2 separate regions of the Homo sapiens genome follow, and region 2 is linked to region 1. A link means that fine-mapping ties the variant in region 1 to the expression of a gene that starts in the linked region. Tissue or cell type: lymphoblastoid cells. Region 1 holds a variant in brackets; the other region holds the start of a gene. All regions are shown on one strand. Distances are from middle to middle.

The links. PIP is the estimated chance that this variant, and not a neighbour inherited with it, causes the effect.
Region 2: it holds the start of PGM2L1, and the variant in region 1 is fine-mapped to the expression of PGM2L1 in lymphoblastoid cells (GTEx, PIP 0.97).

What each region holds. Positions count from the first base shown.
Region 1 is chr11:74,330,417-74,336,752 of GRCh38, forward strand. It overlaps PGM2L1 (phosphoglucomutase 2 like 1), which reads right to left. Exons shown (of 14, transcript NM_173582.6): 14 at 1-6,336. The coding sequence ends at 6,236. All of the region lies in intron 2 of LOC112268078 (a long non-coding RNA gene), which reads left to right. Among named protein-coding and RNA genes, the nearest start is that of P4HA3, 22 kb to the left of the region's middle. The variant G/T (reference allele first, on the strand shown) is at 2,521.
Region 2 is chr11:74,394,635-74,400,970 of GRCh38, forward strand. PGM2L1 (phosphoglucomutase 2 like 1) reads right to left here and starts at 3,799. Exons shown (of 14, transcript NM_173582.6): 1 at 3,417-3,799. The coding sequence starts at 3,527. MIR548AL (microRNA 548al) reads left to right here and starts at 4,603; the gene lies at 4,603-4,699. RefSeq lists enhancers at 1,448-1,949, 1,950-2,449, 3,541-4,162, 3,894-4,263, 4,163-4,783.

The DNA of each region.
Region 1 (6,336 bases):
TTATAATACACCCTGGTGTTTTTGTAGGGAAAAATGAGAAGATGTTGACAGAAACTGTTAAAACAAGGGCACAATTTTGAACTACTGCTACACACTTTAGTCAGAAAAATAATTCATTCTTGACTGCATAAATTTTACCTGGCATATTCAATGAGGCATACAAAGAGTTTATTCTAGCCTAGAACAACAAGGCCTCACCATACATAGAAGCAGAGTCTTGCTTGAGTGGCTCTTGTAAGATACATGATGAATCATAACAGTGGACAAAAACATACCAAATAGGATCAAATTTGTTGTGACTCACTTGGAAGGTAGTGCTACTAGGCTCAAAATGACACTTAGACTAGTGATATTAAGTCTACATAGACACCATTTCTTTACCTTCCTGGCCAACACCTTGCTTTGAGTGTAAAATACCAGGCATTATATATAATTTCCACAGAGAGATATGCTTTGCTCTCTCCAAAGAAACTGAGTATTTAAGGGGATGTCTGCTTAATAAACATTACATTATAAAGTTCAGTGATGGGACTTCATTGAAAAAACTGAATTAGAAAATTCATTTTTTGATTGTTCCTTAAACTATTTGCTACTTTTAAAAAATCCCTTAATTCCTAGTATCAGCAATTAAACACTCTATAACAGGTACTGAACTAGGTGGTATGGATATGAAAAATAATAAACCACGATTCCTACTCTCGGGACTGAGCATCAGGTGGTCCTTTTTAGTCAAGGAATGCCAATAGTAACAAAACTGTTTCAGGTCAGTTTAGTTTGGCATTAATCCTTCTGAAGGTCAGATTCCAAGGGCAGGAAATAGTCTGGATATGTTCTATGTTTATATATCTTTTTTTTTTTTTTTTGAGATGGAGTTTCACTCTTGTTGCCCAGGCTGGAGTGCAACGGCGCGATCTTGGCTCACCACAACCTCCACCTCCTGGGTTCAAGTGATTCTCCTGCCTCAGCCTCCCGAGTAGCTGGGATTACAGGCATGTGCCACCACACCCGGCTAATTTTGTATTTTTAGTGGACACAGGGTTTCTCCATGTCGGTCAGGCTAGTCTCAATCTCCCGACCTCAGATGATCCACCTGCTTCGGCCTCCCAAAGTGCTAGGATTACAGGCATGAGCCACCGAGCCCGGCCTATGTTTATATATCTTGCACTACAGCCAGTGTGTGTAGCTCAAGGACTTGCCTCCACTGGGGGTGAGGGCACTGGGGGAGAAAACTGAGCAGCCACGTGATGAACATGGTGCTCCTTTGTGGTGGCATAAGTTTCAGTAAAGATTAAACATATCATTTTTATATTAAAAGTTTTATTATAAAGAATGCAAAATTCACTTACATTTTAAAGACAGAACACACTTCATGTCAGTGGTAGGCTGATTCTGATTTTGCTCTCAGAACCCCTTCCCCCTTCATCATGCCCCTCTGCTTTAGGGTTACGCTAGTGGAAAAATTTGAGCAGCAAACTCTAGGTATGTCACTTTGTCCCTATTTGGTCACTCTACACATTCTTATAGGTTCTCTTTTATAAGTACATAGTCTTGAATAAACAAAGAGGAAAGATGGTCTAATAAATATATAGTATGGTGAATACTTTAAGGTAACCAGTAGTCAACACTAACTTTGTTTCCAACTAGAATTAAATTCATGCTGTGCAAGGAGTCAGACAATGAGCAATTCTCATCTTACTATTTATACCTCTATGGCTTAGGGTAAGATGCTCTGAGGGACAAATGTGAATAAGATTTCCTTAGATCTTGTGCTTTGGCTCCCCAAGTACAAGGAAACCTGAAATAGAATGTTATGTCAATTGCCCATTCATTTTGGTTAGTACGACTCTTTCCTCATCAGTTTCTAGAACAATCTCAGATGACAAGTGAATTGTAAAAGGCCGTAATAAATTAACATATAGCAGTATGCAGACAGATCAAAACAGGTTATGAAATAGATTTAAAATTACTTCCTACAATAAGTCTTAAATATAATGACAACATTAACAAAATAACCAAAGGTCCATAGGCAAATGTAGTTTATGACTAAGCTTAAAGCATTCTGAATGAATACAGTTGAGATTTCTTATCAGTGAGGTAACAGGGCAATAGTCCTTCACAGTAACAAAATGTGCAAGGGTGCCTAGGAAAAGTGGGAGGTAGAGAGAAAAAGGCATAAAATTAAATGTATCCAAGTGAAGTTTGGATTTTTCAAGCATCACAAATATCAATGGAAAATGTGGAAAAAAGTACTGATAGCAGCAGCTCATAGAACAACTTATCCATTAAACTACAGCTAATATCCCTGTTGCATCAATTCCAGAAGCAACTTGCTTAAGAAATGGGAGGTCTATTTCCTATATAAAGACATTCCAAAGTATCCAATCTCTTAGAACCTCTCCATCTGCTAACGTATCTACATCAAAATAACAACATATATATTCAAAACGAAAACCTCAAATAACCTAAGCCACTATACATTCTTCAAGATGAACAAAATTTTGTTCAAGTCTCACTTAATTT[G/T]CCAGGTTAAATTAAAAATAACAGTGAAGCAGGAAAATTATTCATTGCACTTATGCATCAGTTACTCAAAACACACAAAAATTGTTTTGTGAGCTAAATTCTTCTAGATATGGAGTGAAACCCAAATGTTACTTTTAGTGCCCTTTATGACATTTTTGTTCTAACCTGAGTTTTTAAAAAAAATGTGCTGGAAAGAAGGACCCTTAAAAAGTCATCTGTATATCTCTTAATTTTTAAAATTTTTATTCCCTTAAAAATAAAAAAAAGATTTTGAATAGAAGATATTATGAAGATTTCTCAAGAAGTTCCTAAATCTTAAACTTTCCATGCTGTCTTTAAAAAAAAGATCCTTATTCCCTCTGGTTCTGTCTTCACTAGAGATGGAGAACACTATGGCATAGTATTTCTTACTTTGAACCCTTCAATAAAAGACTCAATAAAGCTTTATTAGCAAACTTAGCAAACTATCTCAACAGCTTTCTCCTCTCCAGAGTCAAACAATCTTTATTCCTTGAACTTTTTCTCAGAAGTCTTATTTTCTAATCTACATTTTCTTCCTTTTTATTTCTGCTCTACCTCTTCCTGAGTTCTCACATGATTCTGATACAACATCCTAGCAGGAACTGAATCCGTAAAAGGGATACTTTTTCTCACCTCCTAAACCTTGGCCTCATTTTAGTGATCACAATAAAGGAAAATGGTAGGTGCATACTCATCATAACAACAAATAAACACAAGTAAACAGGTGGGACACAGTTTATTCCCTACTGTTATGGTGTTACATTTGCCCTTCACGAGAAGCATTTCCCGTGTCTCTTTATATTGTTTGCTTATTTCTACTGTTTATTTCCAATGTATGCTTTGATCTTGCCCTACTAATTCTCTCCTTTTCTCCAAAGCTTTAGAAAATTCCAGTTTTGACTTTCATGCTCAATGAGAATGCAATCATTTTCACAATATTGTTCAAAAAGAAAAAGATAAACATTGTAGTGCCCGAGGCTGAGACCTCCTAGCCAGCACTTCTGTCTCTCCTGACCAGCTTGGGCTATCACTGAATTTATCCTGTTAGGCAAATGTGCACCTACTACATCAAGTTCATGTTAAGTATCATGCTCAGACAGACTCATGACAGGCTAGAATAAAATAATTCCCTCAATCGATACACTTCAGGAACATTTGTAAAATTTTGTTAACTTGAGAGAAGAACACTTCAATAACTTTTCACCTTAAGATGACTTAAATGTTGCATTATATTAAAGCACTCAAATAAAACTGTTTTCTTCATAATAGAATGACAGTCATGACATGGCTTTAGTAACTATGAATGAGCCGTTGATTCATTTTAGCTTCATTTTTGTTTATCAGTCACTGAAACACAGAACTAAACCAAATATACCTGTTTTTCATATATACAACATTATACCACTTTGCAGAATATATGCCATTTCCTAAATTACAATCTACATTCTTAAAAGCATATAAAACAAAAGATGTTTTACACATTTTAAAAATAAAACAAAAATTCTACACATATCTTCTCCAGTGCAAAGCCTTTGAAAACAAACTCATTGAGAAAAATGGTGCTCTACATTTAGCTAGCTGTCTATTATCTACAGTCATACAGTCATATAAGATCCAACAATAAGAAAGTAAGGAAGGAACAAATTAACAATAGTGGCAATACAATAGTTGGACAATTAGGTTTGGATTATATGAGCTCAACCAAATGTTAGCTGACAGCTGCAACAAACGAAACCATGATTTAAGGAACATTCTAATCAGTTCAAACTTTATATTATTATTTTATATGAAATAAATTCTCTAATTACAGTGCTATCTCCCATAAGCAATTTGTTTAGGTCTTGTTATTGTTATCTCCTAACTATACCCCATATGTATTCTGAGAACTATGTAGGACAAGATACATTTTAAGAAGATTAAACACAGCATTTCTTTTTCTCTCTCTCTCTCTTTTTTTTTTTTTTTTTGAGATAAGGTCTCACTCTGTCATCCAGGCTTCAGTGCGGCAGTGTGATCATAGTTCTGTAACTTAAACTCCTGGCCTCAAGCAATCCTCCTGCCTCAGCCTCCCAAAGCGCTGGTATTACAGATGTGAGCCACCAAGCCCAGCCTAAACAGCATTTCTCTATTAAACCTTTTCAGAAGACTGCATGATTAGCCAAAAGTGACTTTTTTTTTTTTTGAGATGGAGTCTCCCTCTGTTGCCCAGGCTGGAGTGTAGTGGCGTGATTTCGGCTCACTGCAATCTCAGCCTCCTAGGTTCAAGCAATTCTCCTGCCTCAGCCTCCCGAGTAGCTGGGACTACAGGTGCCCACCACCACACCCGGCTAATTTTTGTATTTTTAGTAGAGACAGGGTTTCACCATATTGGCCAGGCTAGTCTCAAACTCCTGACATTGTGATCCACCTGCCTCAGCCTCCCAAAGTGCTGGGATTACAGGCGTGAGCCACTGCGCCCAGCCCAAAAGTGACTTTTTGTAAAAAATTATTTTCTACACTAAAAGAAGATAAATAATAGTCATGCAATCAGAAATTCTACAGAAGTCAGCAAGATGTTAGAATAAACTGGACCTCTGTTTTAAAACATGTAGTTTTAGTATTTCATAATACTTAAAATTTGGATGTTTTATTCTTAGTAAAATTAACATTACTTCATAAAATAAAAGAATAAATCTACTTACAAAAATGTAATTCAAAAGTTAGACTGTCAAATAAATTCAGAGCTCCTTTCTCAGTTCAGATTTTTTTCTGTAATAAAAGGTTTGATAAATGACACAATTCTAATATGAAGATCCTTAACTACATTAAGCTTGCTTTTATTAAGATCTTTATTTATATTCCTAAGATTTTAAAATCAGCAAACTCACTTGATATAGAGGAAGCACCTACAGATTTTGGAAGATTTTCCTTAGCTATCTGCAAATTGACTGATTAAATTATGGTAAATGCAGGAACACTGTTTTTTCTGTTCACACCAGACCCTGAGAAGGCACTGAGAAATTTGATAAGAACAAAGCCAATAGGAGTGTTGCCACTATTGTTTTATGTTCAGTAAACATCAGAATTTTAAATACATACAGTAAATTTATACTGCACCAAGGGCACCTGAAACAGACATGCCAAAACCACACACTGTAACATCTGTTCTAAACTACAGAAATGCTAAATATCCTATTTCAAATACTCTAATTTGTAAATTAATACCTGTGATGTCACAATGACACTTTTTCATAACAATCAAGGAAAGTACCATTTTCTTGCCAATTTTATGGACTAATTTCCTTAACTAACCCTACAATTATATAACATTTACCTGTCTTTTTTTTTTTCTTTTACCATGCTATACACAATTACGAGATACAGAACTAGGCTTAATCACACTATAATAAGAAAACTCACTTTTGAATTGTGATGTTTCTGTTAACGGAAGGACAATACGTTACTATAATACTTTTAGTGTAATAACTTTTGTTTGAATTATGAAAAAATTTGAATCATTTCCCTCTAGACCATTTCATTTCAAACTTATACTTTGTTTAGTCTAGCCAGTTGACCAAAAAGAAAGAAAATAAAAGGAAAAAGATACTCGGCCAGATGAGATAGAGAGAGAATGCTAACACAAGGTTCAATGTATGCAGTTCTCGGTTGCTCTGTTCCATATGCCCACACAGTGTCATGACATATTGGTGTACCCCTAAACAGAACGCCAGATCAGTCCATTCTTACTAGGCTGAAGAAAATTCTCTATCAGAGCATCAATGAGTTTCTTCAGTTCTTCCTCCAGTAAAGCAGTGT
Region 2 (6,336 bases), 64 kb after region 1:
GCAACAGCAGAAATAAAAGTTCTTAATACACACATTAAAATTTCTCTCTATGCTTGTCATAGTTCTCCTTATGTTAGCAAGTCTAATTTTAACTAATTCTGAAAGTTCAAGCACAAATAACATTTTTTCATAAAGACTTTTCAAATACACCAACCGAGACTAAGATTAGTAATTTTAGTGACCAACGCAAGTAGCAAATTGACCTCTAATCAATTTAAAACTTATTATATGCCTCATCTGAGTCATGAAGAATTGGTGGCATTTGGTTCCTTTTTTAATTAAATAGGTATTCATCAGGTGTTAAAATCAGTTTCTCTGTTAAAAGACTACATATGCCATCAATATATAATGTAAGAAATGCCATGAGTCTGATCTTATTTTACATTTCTGCACTCTAAATTTCAGTGCCCTGAGACAGTCTAGCTTACCTATAGTATCAATCTACAGTAGATACAATTTCTCCATTAAATGTATTCTCTCCTATTAAGAGAGGATCAATGAAGAAATTTATTATATTTATTAAATAATTAACAAATTACTTAATCTATTCCTCTGTTAAGGATACTTATTACTTGCCCCTATTATTTATGCTTTTCCTTCCCTTCTATTTTCTTTAAAGATATGATCCATATCTATTTCATCTTTCTATCTCTCACAGGTTTCAGCTAATGCCTTATATTCAGAGGCACTTTAAATACAAATTAAGAATTTATCTTCCACTTTCAATGAAGTTTTATCTTCATTATTTTTATTTTGTTTTATTTATTTTTGAGATGGAGTCTCACTCTGTCATCCAGGCTGGAGTGCAGTGGAACGATCTCAGCTCACTGCAACCTCCGCCTCCCAAGTTCAAGTGATTCTCTGGCCTCAGCCTTTGAGTAGCTGGGACTACAGGCACGTGACACCTCGCCTGGCTTTTTTTTTTTTTTTTTTTTTTTTTTTTTGTATTTTTAGTAGGGACGGGGTTTCACTATGTTGGCCAGGCTGGTCTCGAACTCCTGACCTCAGGTGATCTGCCCACCTTGGCCTCCCAGGGTGCTAGCATTACAAGCGTGAGCCACCGTGCCTGACCTCTCTTCATTCTTTTTATGTATCCTATCTTCTAATGAAGTCTTCCTTGAGCATCTCAGTCCACCGTTTACTCCTACTTTTGAACTGCAAGAACTGACTGCCTACAAACCATTTAATTGCCACCAAAACTACCCTAGCATTATTATTTTATGTGCATTTTACAGGTTTCTTTAATATTTCAGTATATCCCAACAATGTATAGGCATAGAATGGACAATCAATAAATATAAATTCATTCAAACAATCTTTTAAAAATAATTCAGGGGCCGGGTGTGGTGGTTCATGCCTATAATCCCAACACTTTGGGAGGCTGAGGTGGGAGAATCCCTTGAGGCCCAGAGTTCAAGACAAGCCTGGGCAACATAGTGAGACCCCATTTCTAAAAAAAAAAAAATTTTTTTTAATTAGCCGGGCGTGGTGGCATGTGCCTGTAGTCCCAGCTACTCGGCAGGCTAAGGCAGAAAGATCACTTGAGCCCAGGAGTTCAAGGCTGCAGTGAGTGCAGTGAGCGGAGATCGCGCCACTGCACTCCAGCCTGGACAACACGGTGAGACCCTGTTTAAAAAAAAAAAAAAAAATCAATCAGGAGACTCATTAGGAAAAGTACAGTTAAAACTGGCACCTAAAGAGAACAAAAAGTCTTGCTACTCCAAGTGTGGTCCACAGACCAGCAGCATTAGTATCACCTGAAAATTCATTCTTTTTTTTTCTTTTCTTTTCTTTTTTTGAGACGGAGTCTCGCTCTGTCGCCCAGGCTGGAGTGCAGTGGCGCGATCTCCGCTCACTGCAAGCTCCGCCTCCCGGGTTCAAGCCATTCTCCTGCCTCAGCCTCCCGAATAGCTGGGGCTACAGGCGCCCGCCACCGCGCCCGGCTAATTTTTTGTATTTTTAGTAGAGACGGGGTTTCACCATGTTAGCCAGGATGGTCTCGATCTCCTGACCTCGTGATCCACCCGCCTCGGCCTCCCAAAGTGCTGGAATTACAGGCCTGAGCCACGGCGCCCGGCCGGAAATTCATTCTTAGGCAGAATCCAAGGCCCCACCCCAGGCCTCCTGAATCAGAATTTGTATTTCAAGATCCCCAGGTGATCTATAAGCACATTAAGGTTTGAGAAGCATTAGTTTAGACTGTAGAGGAAGAATTATTCGTCCAATATACATATGACCAATTAACACCAAATACCTCATTGTAGTTGCTTATTTGTTGGTCTTCCTCATCTGCTAACTGAGGCTTGTTGAGGGCAGGAACCCTTTCTATTTTCCTCACAAGTATTTCCTGGGTCTAACAAGACCTAAAACACGCACTCAGCATTCAATATTTTTTTGCTGAATGAATGAATGAATAAAGTAAAAACAAAACTTTCAGAAAGTGAAGCCTTAAGGAAATTCATTTGTACAACATAATGTCACATACTACCATACAAATTCCTTAATTCAGTGTCATTAATTCCATTTTAAATGTGCTGCCTTCTCTACTTCAACAAAGGTATTTTACGCACTTGACAAAGCAAAAGCTTGGATTATCTTCCTCTGTTGGAGCTACCAGGGACCTCTTTTACAAGTAAGATAGCTGCATTTTAATTCTGATTGTCACAAATTCATCCCAAATGCCCGCACGAGGTTTAATTACCACCACAACTTGGAGGTGGGGGCGGAGGGTGGGTGGGGAGGTGTTGGTAGAGAAGTAATGGTTAAGGCAAAAACAATCCTGTATTAAGAGTACCACATGAAACCTGGAAAACACGATTCCTTGAACAGATTAATTCCAGAAAATAGCTGCCAGCAGGAGAAAGAAGAGGTAAGCGCCTTGCCTTTCCCAACAGCAAAAGGTGATACTAGACAATACCAGGGAGTGATAAAAGGCCAGCAACTACCTAGCGACAGAAGGAGGAAACACACCAGACCAGAACTAAAGCGGATAGCGGTTAGAAACGCCCAGTAAGGGTGCCAGAAACCACTTTCAGGTATGTGGAGAAGGAAGTCAAGGGAGAAAAAGGGAAAGGAAATCGTTGTTTAGGGTATAACTTACAATGATGATGATTTTTTTTTTTTTTTTTTTGAAGAAAGAGGGAAGACAGCACTTGAAAGGAAAGAGGGTAAAGAAGAGGAAGGGAGGTTACAATTGAGAGCACTGCAGAAGGAAGCGATGCAGATGTTGCCGCCCGGCTCTGGCAGTCCGAAGGAGCAACCCCACGCATAGGTGGGTGGCAACGCCCTGCTCCGCTGCCCCCCGCTCGGTGTCCCGAGCCATCTCCTCTGCAGCCCGCGGGGCGCTGGGTGGGCACAGGAAAGAGCAGACTGTGTGGGGGAGGCGACGGCGTTTGCCGGGCTGACCAGGTACCCACCTTATCCCAGCGGAGCCACTGCCCGATGGCCGTGTCCAGCTGAGGGTCCCCGGTGTGGTAGGGGGCGTGGAGCAGGTTGGAGTTCAGATCCCCCTCTGTGTTTTCAGCCATGGCGACCAGACAGGCGTACGGGCCGGGGGCCGGCGAAGACACTGAGTTGGGGTGGGGGGTGGCTTGGGGTTCGCTCACCAGGGTCCAGGCGTCCCCACCTCACTGAAGGGCATCGGAGACCAACCGCAGGGTGTTCGTAACAGCTCCTGCCGCGGCGTCAGGGAACCGGGAGAGAGGGGGTTTATGGCCGCCTGCTCCCCAGCGGACCAGGTCCGGGTCTCTGGGCGAAGTGACTGAGGCGGTCGCGCCGCGAGAGAACAACAGTCCCAGATGTCTGGGTCCTGGCTCCGCCGCCGCCGCCGCCGCCCGCCCCGCCTACGGCCCCGCCCCGCGCCTTAGGCCCCGCCCCTTCCCGCCCTTGCTGATTTAAGTCCCCGAAGTTCTAGACTGGAGCCCGGGAGCGCGCTCCCCACGCCTCCGAAGTAGTGGGGGTTTACAGCCCGTCCGGGTGGTGAGGCAATAGTGCACGGTTCTTTTTATTTTTTAATTTGCCAAGGGTCTCCTTTCCTCGATCTGCTCTCACGGCTACCACTAGCAAGCTGCCTTTGCGCTTGCCCTGCAGGTCCCCAGCGCGCGCGCAGGCCCCCAGTTTCTCTTGGGGGCACGCGCCGGTTGGGGGAGGAGGGGCAGTGCGAGCTGTCCGCGCACTGCCTCACGGGAGTTGTAGTTCTTTCCTTTGTCTGAGCTCAGCGGAGACCGCCGCCGAGACTACGACTCCCAGCAGCTCCGCGTTCCCCCTTTCCTCAAAAGAAAAAGATCTACCTCGAGGTAGTTCCCTACAGACACGCCCTATCCCTATTAGTTATGCTGCGCTGTGTGGCCCTGGCATTAAATTAAACAAGGAATGACATAGTAAGGGGACAAAGTGGTATCCGTTTAGTGCTGTGCAGTTTACGAATCGCGTTCTATCGCCTCAATCCCTCAGTAAGGTACAGGGGCGTAGTCCTTTTCCGTTTCACACACAAAGAAGAAACTGACTCCCTGAGACACCTCTCCTAAGAGGCCGAGTTCGTGAGCGGTCAAACTAGGGTTCCAATCTCATTTCAGATCCCCTCAGCTGGCAGTTATTTTATTAGGTCGGTGCAAAAGTAATTGCTGTTTTTGCCATTAAAAATAATGGCATTAAAAGTAATGGCAAAAACGGCAATGACTTTTGTACCAATCTAATATCTCTGCTGCTATAGTAAACTAGGAGGTAGGGAGAACAAGATTACTGGAAAATAGATAAGGAAGTTGTTGAGGGAAGATGGTCGGCATTTAACCTAAATATAAGAATGTATAAGCATCACAAGATACCAAGAGCAATGGTAATGGGAATACGGAGGAAAAGGAAATTGGTTCACCCAAATTGAAATAGTCTTCCGTTACTTCTTAGCCGTCTCTCCTATGGAAAGCTCACCTAAGTTGAGGTCTGGGAAATGCTGAGAAGTGCTGACCTGTCAGCCACCTAGCTACTCCTCCGTTTCTTGGTTTGGCCTTCTTAGAATGGCTATGATTTTGGGCAAGTACATTACAACTCTTTCCCTAGTCAGCTTTTTTGTAAGGAAGGTATGATAATATTTACATCATGGCTGTACAGTAACTTAATAAATGGCATTAGGCTGCTTTGAGGTTCACAGATAAAAGACATATTAAGTTCAAAGTATTACTTTATTTCCTTTAAAGTGCCATTTACCATAATAAAATTCAAACTACCAAGGTACAAAAGGATTGTGGTACCAGTTTCTGAAAAACGTGCCATAGTTGGGAGTTGCAGTTTTTGCTAACGATTGTTTCTTTTGTGGAGTCAGCAGGACTCTTGTTCTTTTAATCACACAAGGCCTGGGCAACAGTCACGTGTCCTGGAGAGAAATTCATCTTCCACTACCATCACCATTATTATCCATGATACATATTAAACATTTACTCTCTGCTAAGCATTATGGTAGGAGCTGAGGCTACAAGAATCTATATAATTGTTCACTTCGAGAAGTAACATCTGAGGAGACAGGATATATGTAAGAAAAGAAAGCCCATGATAAATAGCAAGTGCTGCCAACAACTGTTAATGAATTTACATCTGAGGTGGTCAATGAAAAAAGCATCAAGCAGGAGGGACCTGCACTGGGCTTTCAGAAACAAAATAAACAAGTTGAGAATAAGATAGAGGATATTTCAAACCCATAGATCAGTGGTTCTCATATCTCCCTAGGAGTTTGTTTAAATTAATATTCCTGGACACTGCCTCCAGAGATTCTGAATCAATACATTGGCATAGGGCCTAGGTACCTGCATATTTGAAATATCTATTGACTGTCACAATTCAAAGTGTGATTAGGAGGACAACTGTGCTGATGTCCTCTGGAAGCTTATTAAGAAATACAAAATTTCATACCCCAGTCCAGTTCTGCTGCATCAGAACCTACATTTTAACAAGATCTAATGATGAGTTATATTTAAATTTGTTAAACAGTGTTTTTTATAAGACAATTCTTATTCAGTTCATTTCTGAGAAACACTACCAAATCAACAGAGCTTTCAAGACATGGAAAAAAAGAGTCAACTAACCTTCACTTTTATCAGCAAGATCATAGCAGACATTTACTGCTTACCAGAAATCTTGCCCAGCGGATTAGATTTATTGTTTGGATGTTGGAGGGTAACCAAGGAGACCCAGAACCCATCAAATCCAACAGCAGTGTCTAAGTGTGTTCAGCAGAGGAAGTGTAGTAGTTCCCCTAGTCTGGGAAAGCTCAGAGCTTTCATTTCTGTTGGAATTTGCCCATGGCATCCTGCATTTTTATTTGCTAAGCCTGGCAACATTAACTGT